Linked DNA regions of Homo sapiens: region 1 is linked to region 2. The links come from fine-mapping of genetic effects on gene expression. A gene starts in region 2. The other region holds a variant in brackets. All regions are shown on one strand. Distances are from middle to middle. Region 1 has its middle 20 kb from the start of LINC02352. Region 2 holds the start of LINC03034 (long intergenic non-protein coding RNA 3034).

What was found. PIP is the estimated chance that this variant, and not a neighbour inherited with it, causes the effect.
Region 1: its variant is the best candidate, but not a certain one, in a credible set for the expression of LINC03034 in thyroid (GTEx, PIP 0.67).

Annotation. Positions count from the first base shown.
Region 1 is chr15:31,194,282-31,198,611 of GRCh38, forward strand. No RefSeq gene overlaps it. Among named protein-coding and RNA genes, the nearest start is that of LINC02352, 20 kb to the right of the region's middle. The variant C/T (reference allele first, on the strand shown) is at 2,515.
Region 2 is chr15:31,228,260-31,232,655 of GRCh38, forward strand. LINC03034 (long intergenic non-protein coding RNA 3034) reads right to left here and starts at 2,603. Exons shown (of 4, transcript NR_171016.1): 1 at 2,448-2,603; 2 at 1,013-1,092.

The DNA.
Region 1 (4,330 bases), 34 kb before region 2:
TGTTCTCTCTAAGCTCATTCAGGTTGCCCAGTTTGTAAGTTGCAAGATTCAGTTCTATCTTGCAGTTCCAAGACTCGGGTCCCCACTTTGTTGCTGGCTGTAGGCCACCCTGGGACTTGTCTCAGCTTCTGGAGACCATGCTTGGTCCTCGCGACATGGACTCTGTGTGCATCTACTCTGGGACTGCTATAAAGAAATACCGGAGGCTGGGTCATTTATAAAGAAAAGGGGTTTAATTGGCTCATGGTACTGCAGGCTGTACAGGAAGCATGATGCTGGCATCTGCTCGGCTTTGGGGAGGCCTCAGGAAACTTACAATCAGGGCAGAAGGTGAAGGGGAAGCAGATACGTCGTCTTACATGGCTGGAGCAGGAGCAAAAGAGGTGAGAGGGGAGGTGCTATCCACTTTTAAACAACTAGATCTGGTGAGGACCCACTATCATGAAGACAGCAACAAAGGGATGGTGTCAAACCATGAGAAACTGCCCCCATGATCCAATCACTTCCCACCAGGCCCCACCTCCAACACTGGGGATTACAATTCCACATGAGATTTGGGTGGGAACACAGATCCAAACCATATCAGACCCACAAGCAGTCTGCAACACGACAGTCTGCTGTCTTCTGGGCCACGTCTCCATGAAGCTTCACCTTCTTTCAAAGGCTCCTCTGGTTGGGCCAGGCCCACCCAGGATAACCTGGATAGTCTCCCTCTTGATTAATTCAATGTCAACTGACTTGTGACAATCACAGGAGTGACATCCTATCATAGTCACTGATTCTGCACACACTAAAGAGGAAGGAATTCTATAGGGAGTTCATACCAGGGGCAGGACTCTTGGGGCCATGCTAGAATCCCGCTTGCCACATATGGGTTTGGAGTCTGAATTTACACCTGTCGAATTGTGGAAATCTCCATGATTAACATCCATTAGGTCCCAGGCAGGAGATATCTTTGCAGTGCATGACAGAGGCAAATAGAAAAATTCTCACAGAAGGCTGGTCGTGGTGTCTCACGCCTGTAATCCCAGCACTTTGGGAGGATGAGGCGGGTGGATCACGACGTCAGGAGATCGAGACCATCCTGGCTAACACGGTGAAACCCTGTCTCAACTAAAAAATACAAAAAAATTAGCCGGGCGTGGTGGCAGGCGCCTGTAGTCCCAGCTACTCAGGAGGCTGAGGCAGGAGAATGGTGTGAACCTGGGAGGTGGAGCTTGCAGTGAGCCGAGATTGTGCCACTGCACTCCAGCCTGGGCGACAGAGCGAAGACTCCAGCTCAAAAAAAAAAAGAAAGAAAAATTCTCACAGGAAAAAAAAATTATATATATATATATATTATATATATATAAATTATATATATTATATATATTATATATATAAAAATTATATATATTATATATATTATATATATTATATATATAAATTATATATATAATATATATTATATATATTATATATATAAATTATATATATAATATATAAATTATATATAATATATATATTATATATATAAATTATATATATAATCACTGAAGATAACATCACAATAAAAAAATTGAACAGACACACGGAAACTCCATTCCCTGCATAAGCAAGTCAGCAGGCAAAATGAATAGGAGCATTGGGATCCATCCCAGGACCTGCAGACCTCTCCTCCTCAACAGGTGTGTGTAATATAGGTTTCCTACCGTGTACTTGGCTGTTGATCTAGATATTGCTTAAAAGGACAGTGAGATTGCATGAAAACCACCACCTACAAAGATGATGAAAATTTTCATTATGAAATTTTGTATTTCATTAAGTTTTAAGATATTTTGTAATGTTTTCCACATGAATGAAACTTTATCATATGTGACCCATTGCACTATTTGATCATATTATGTACAATTTGGGATTAATTTTCAAACCTAAGTATTGCTTTAAGAATTTGAGTAATGAGGCCGGGCACAGTGGCTCACATCTGTAATCCCAGCACTTTGGGAGGCTGAGGCGGGAGGATCACACTTGAGGCCAGGAGTTCGAGAGCAGCCTGGCCAATATGGTGAAACCCTGTTCCTACTAAAAATACAAAAATTAGCCAGCCAGGTGTGGTGGCACACACCTGTAATCCCAGCTACTCAGGAGGCTGGGAGAATCATTTGAACTTGGTAGGCAGAGGTTGCAGTGAACCAGGGTCATGCCACTGCACTCCAGGCTGGGCTGGGCATTTTTTTTTTTTTCTGGAAAAAAAAGAAAAGAAAAGAAAAGAATTCGAGTAATGATTCCAGTTGCTACCACCTCATCAGAGCAAAGTTTCTCTAAATTGAATTTAAATATATTTAAATATATATATAACAACTATTTTGTTGATTCAGGAAAGGTGTAACTTGGCTTTCCTATCATTTGAACATAAATCTATGAAAATCTCATTATCTCAACATAATCAGTGATTTTGCTAAAGCAAAGGCAGGAAAAATAAATTTTACAGAATAAATAACAGTTTATGAAGTATGACTTTATTATTCATGCAAA[C/T]AACACCAACCCATCAACATCACACCCAGACATGAACAATAATTAAATTCAGCCATCTATGATATTTTGCCACGTTTCAATCATATAAAAACTGTAACTTTATACATATTAGTTTGATTTATGACCTTTACTTTTTTTTTTTTTTTTTTTGGTAGAGATGGGGTCTCCTCATGTTGGCCAGACTGGTCTAGAACTCCTGACTTCAAGTGATCCGCCCTCTTCAGCCTCCCAGAGTGGTGGGATTACCTTTCTTTTTTTCTTTTTTTTTTTTTTTTTTTTTTGAGACAGAGTCTCCCTCTGTCCCCCAGGCTGGAGTGCAGTGGCGCAATCTTGGCTCACTGCAAGCTCTGCTTCCCGGGTTCACACCATTCTCCTGCCTCAGCCTCCCGAGTAGCTGGGACTACAGGTGCCCGCCACCACGCCCGGCTAATTTTTTGTATTTTTAGTAGAGGCAGGGTTTCACCGTGTTAGCCAAGATGGTCTCGATTTCCTGACCTCGTGATCCGCCCGCCTCGGCCTCCCAAAGTGCTGGGATTACTGGCGTCAGCCTCTGCGCCTGGCCGAGTGGTGGTATTACTGCAGGTGTGAGCCACCACACCTGACTATGATTTTTACATGTTTAGACATGTGGTCAGAGGGCCCTGGACACTGTCACTCTAAGAGGGTCGCTGGGAAAAAGGCCAAGCCTGGGGATCACAGCAGAGGACACACCTGGAGCAGCTGGGTCTGAGGGACTGGGCTCCCCTCTGAGGTCACGGTGCCCTTGCAGGGAGGGCCAGGCCAGCAGCAAAGACACACATCTCCAGGTTCTGTTGGACCAGGCCTCAATGGCGCCGCCACGTGGCAGCGTGGAGCAATGTCAGGAACCTGCTCTTCCCACACCAAGAAAACTTTGCACCAAGTCCCCAGGGATTTTTTTGGATTGATTGATTGATTTCTTGAGAATTCAAGGCAAGAGGGGACTGCCAGGGGAAGATATGGGGCTTTCTATTTTTAAGGCCAGTGAATACCAGAATGATTAATTTCAAAGATAATTTGCATTCTGAGTTTGTGGAGCGACACACCAAGAAGTAGATTGTTTTGTGCACAGCAGCTGGGAGCAGGTGGCATAGAGGTTAAACCAGGGAACCTGGACCAGACCTGTGCTTATGTGCTGGCTCCATTACTGGTTAGTCGTGTGATGCCAGGCAAGTTCTGTGGTCTCTCCAAGTCTGTCTTCCCCCAAGTCAATGGGAGTCGTGGGCAGCCTCAAAGCCCCAGAGATGCTGTGATTGATTGAGACAAACTTTGCTTGGCTCCTGCACTCAGTACGGGCTCTACCAATGTAGCTCTCTTTCCCTTCTCCTTCTTCTATCCCTAACCTCCCCCTCCTCCTCCTCCCTCGTAGATGGCAATCCTTGAGTGCTTGTTGGGTGAGTTAATGAATTTGGATGCAAGCCACCAAGGGCGATGGACTTGATCGGTTTCTCCAATCATCCTCGAATTGCCTGGATTCCTACCACACTCCGCCTTCCCCTCCTTAGTCAAGTGTGTTGGACTTTTCTGTCTTTGAGTACCCAGCACACTGTTCCCCAGCTGAGGGCCTCCTGTCTCAGTTTACAGAGAAAACAGAGGAATCGGGCACTTGCCTTCCTTCCCCCATCTTGCTGTCAGCCAGCATCCCTTCTCCTCTGCTTCCATGGGGCCAGCCCTGCCTTGTCCCTTCAGCTCACCATGTCTAAGAACTTCACTCCTGCAATTACCCTCCTCTCACAGTTGGGTTACCAAGTCATGTTACATATCTCCACTCTTTCTTTTCTTTTCTTTCTCTTTCTTT
Region 2 (4,396 bases):
TGTTTTCTCTGGTGCTATGAACTGAATGTTTGTGTACTCCTCCCCCCAAATTCATATGTAGAAATTTTCGGCCCCAGTGCGATGGCATTAGGAGGTGGAACCCTTGGGAGTTTAGGTCAAGAGGATGGAGACCCCAAGCTCTCTTCCTCTTTCCCTGCCACGTGGCCATCTGCAACCTGAAGAGAGCCCTCCCCATGACCTGACCATACTGGCACCTTGATATGGGACTTCCAGCCTCCTGAACTATGAGAAATAAATGCCTGCTATTTATAAGCCACCCAGTCTATAGTCCTTTGTCATAGCAGCCTGAGCTGACTGAGACCGTCAGGTAAGTGGCCTGGGGTCTGGGGTGGTAGCATTCCTATTGTCTCCTTTATTCTGTTGGAATGTTTGACTCCAAGCATAAAGGACATTTTTAGTTCTTTTGTTTTTTTGGGTTTTTTTTTGAGAGGGAGTCTCACTCTGTCACCCACGCTAGGGTGCAATGGTACAATCTCCACTGCAACCTCTGCCTCCTGGGTTCAAGCAATTTTCCTGCCTCAGCCTCCCGAGTAGCCAGGATTACAGGCGCCTGCCACCATGCTCAGCTAATTTTTGAATTTTTTGTAGAGATGGGGTTTCACCAAGTTGGCCAGGCTGGTTTTGAACTCCTGACCTCAGGTGATCCACCCACCTTGGCGTCACAAAGTGCTGGGATTACAGGCGTGAGCCACCATGCCCGGCCATTTTAAGTTTTTTAAAACACTCAAAGCCATGCCTTGGGGAGGCTGCAGTCTGGCTCTGTCCCACCCTTGCCTGCTGCTGGTTGGAAGTGGGACCAGCCCAGCTGCTCCTTGGGTCAGGGTCTACAAGGCCAGCCCTGGAAAGGCAGATCCACAACACAGCCAGTGCAGCACCAGGAAGGGTGCCCTGGGCTGAAGTCTGCATGGGGCAGCAGAGGCAGAGCCTGCCAGACCTGCAGACATTTCTGCAGTTGATTATGTTCTTACTTGTCCCTAAGATGAGCACTTACCTAGGCATAGCTGATGCCCTCTGGTGGGGCCGGGGGGGGGGTGGTGTCCCAAATCTGATGGTGGAGCAGCAGGGGATCCCCTGTGGGTAGAGACCAACAGGCAGGCTCTGTGCCGTGGGCTGGCTGGTGTACCCAGGAGACCTCAGCTCACACCCTCCTGGGAAGGACTGCCGGCCACTTCATAGGTGGAGCACAGAGGTGCTGGCTCCACCCCCTGTGTGTGCGTGGCACTCTGTAGTCACCAGCCTGGCTGTCTGCCTCCTTGTTCCAGGCATGGTCTCAATGGCCTCAGACCCTCCCTCCTGAGCCTGATTAAGAAGCAAAGCACCCTGCAGTAGGGGACACTCTTCTTAGGAGGAGGCGGCAATTCTCACTAATAAGTGCTTTTCTTCTACCACATCATGTACATTAAGTGGTTTTTTTTTTTTGTTTTGCTTTTTTGTTTTTTTGTTTTGTTTTTGTTTTTGTTTTTTTGGATACAGAGTCTTGCTCTGTTGCCCAGGCTGGAGTGCAGCGGTGCAATCTTTGCTCACTGGACCCTCCGTCTCCCGGGTTCAAGCGATTCTCCTGCCTCAGCCTCCTGAGTAGCTGGAACTACAGGTGTGCGCCACCACACCCAGCTAATTTTTGTATATTTAGTAGAGACAGGCAGGGTTTCACCATGTTGGCCAGGCTGGTCTCGAACTCCTGACCTCAAGTGATCTGCCTGCCTCGCCCTCCTAAGTGTATATTTTTCTTTTCTTTTTTTTTTTTTTGAGACGGAGTCTCGCTCTGTCACTAGGCTGGAGTGCAGTGGTGCCATCTCAGCTCACTGCAACCTCTGCCTCCCGGGTTCAAGCGATTCTCCTTTCTCAGCCTCATGAGTAGCTGGGATTACACACGTGCGCCACCAAACCCAGCTAATTTTTGTATTTTTAGTAGAGACGGGGTTTCACCATGTTGCCCAGGATGGTCTAGATCTCTTGACCTTGTGATCCACCCACCTCGGCCTCCCAAAGTGCTGGGATTACAGGCATGAGCCACCGCGCCTGGCCGTGTATATTTTTCTAAATAGACACCTGACCATGCTTAGGTCATCCATCGAAATTCCCTAGCACTTGCTGGCTTCCCTGAATTCAACTGAATTGCGCGTGCCCACTGCTGCTGCATAACCTATGGCGGGCACAGCCATGGGATAAAGTGGGCAGTGTGCACACATTCCCCGCACAGTCTGTGGCCTGGCCAAGCCCCTGGGCATTCGAGGCTCCCGGCAAGGCTTCGTGTCCCGACAGTTTTGGGTAGGGGCACGAGGTGGGTGAGCCCGGATCCCAGCAGCAGGCATGGCTCCCTGGGTTTTCATGTCATCTGTGCCCCCTTCTACCAGGATCCTGCAGCAGCTGAAGGGAGACCCCTCTCCTTTTAAGGGTTAAACCCCCAGTGGCACAGAGCAACTTACCTGCCCTTGCATGGTGAACACTCCCATCTTTATCACATCAGTAATTCTTGCTAAAAGCAGATGTAATTTTGAAGGTGGGTAAAAGTAACTTGAAAAGTTGGTGGGCAGATGGCAGAGAGCCTGCTCATCCTTCTTTCAAACTGTCATCAGCTGCACAGGTCTCAGCTGCCATCTCATACTATTATTATTGCTATTTTGCATGTGTGCACACCTCTTTCTGTGGGTGTGGAGGGAGGGGACTGAGCAAAGCCTCAGGGAGGCCACATACGTTCTCAGCGCCATGCTTGGCTGGTGACTGGTCATGCACCATTGGCAGGGCCTGGAGCACGTGCAAGGAACAGAGTTCCCGGCTCTGCACACTCAACATGTGTGTTTCATACTGTCACCTGGCTGGCTCCTCTTTCTGGGTCTGTGTGAGCAGAACAGAACACACACTGGGGACAGAGCTTGCCCGAGGGGCTGCCCAGGTTATTTCCATCTTGGTGATGATGACACCACCCTGAGCTCATTTCTTCTTCACAGCAATCCCAGGAGATGGGAACCACTGTTATCCCCATTTTCTTGATAGGTAGACTGAGATGTGAGTGAGGGGAACAGATGGGACAAAGCTAGGACCCAAGGACAGGTGAAGGCAAGGAGGGACGATGCTGCTAATAATCAAGGCCATTCATTTGGTCCCACCCAGAAGCCTGGGCAAGTGGAGACAGCTGGCACTACAGAGGCCATGGGGCAGGGGCAGTGGAGGCCAAACCAGGGGGCTTGATCAGCACTCTGTCTGGGAAGCCATTGAGATCCCAGGTTCCTTCCACAGCATGCCTCAGACAAGCCTGGAAGTTTGTTCTTTGGGGAAATTGTAGAAAGGAGGCTCTAGGCTCAGGGGCTGAAGGACAGCAGAAGGCAGGGGTGGGGTTCTGGACTAAAAAGGGGTCGAGGTATAAGAAGAAAGACTTCACCTACACTGAGGAGATCCCCAAGACCCCCTCCCGACTCTACTCCCAGGAAGTTGGCAGCATGACCTACAAGTACCAGGCAGGACATATGTTCCTAGAGAGGAGACCTAAACATGTTTGCAGGTAAGGGTTGCCCAACAAAGAATCTGCTATAGCCACCAGTCTATAACCATCCCCTGCCAGCAAGAAGTCTTCAGTGAGCTCTTCAGGGCTGTGCCCTTGGAGATGAACCAACTGCCCACGGTCACTGAACACAGGAGTGAAGCAGCCAACATGGAGCACAACCAGCAACACATAGGGAAGAGGCACTCAGAGGAAGCAGAGGGAAGGGGCAGAGCAAAGCTCAACATGAAGCCCCTGTCAGTCACATTCTTGGGAGCTGATAGAGGAGATTGCATCCAGGAAACAAGAATGGCATTCTAGGCTGGGTGTGGTGGCTCACACCTGTAATCCCAACACTTTGGGAGGCTGAGGCGGGCAGATCACCAGAGGTCAGGAGTTCGAGACCAGCCTGGCCAACATGGTGAAACCCTGTCTCTACTTAAAATACAAAAATTAGCTGGGCATGGTGGCGCATGCCTGTAGTCCAGCTACTCGGGAGGCTGAGACAGGAGAATCACTTGAACCCAGGAGGTGGAGGTTGCAGTGAGCTGAGATCACGCCACTGCACTCCAAACTGGGCAACAGAGCAAGACCACAGACACACACACACAAAAAAAAGATTGGCATTCTAGGAGAAAGGGATCATCAAAGCACAAGAAAGAGGACATTTAATAAATAAGATAGAAGGTGGAGTCAAGAAAATTGCTAGAAAAAAGACAAAAAGATTGACAATAAGACACCAAAGACAACTAGCATGTCAATCAGATGATTTGGGGTTCCACTAATTAGAGTTACAAAAGGTGAGACCAGATACAAGGGGGAGACATTTTCAAATAAATAATACAAGAAAATTACCAAGTGAAGGATGGGAGCCTCTGAACGGAAAGAGCCTGTTAA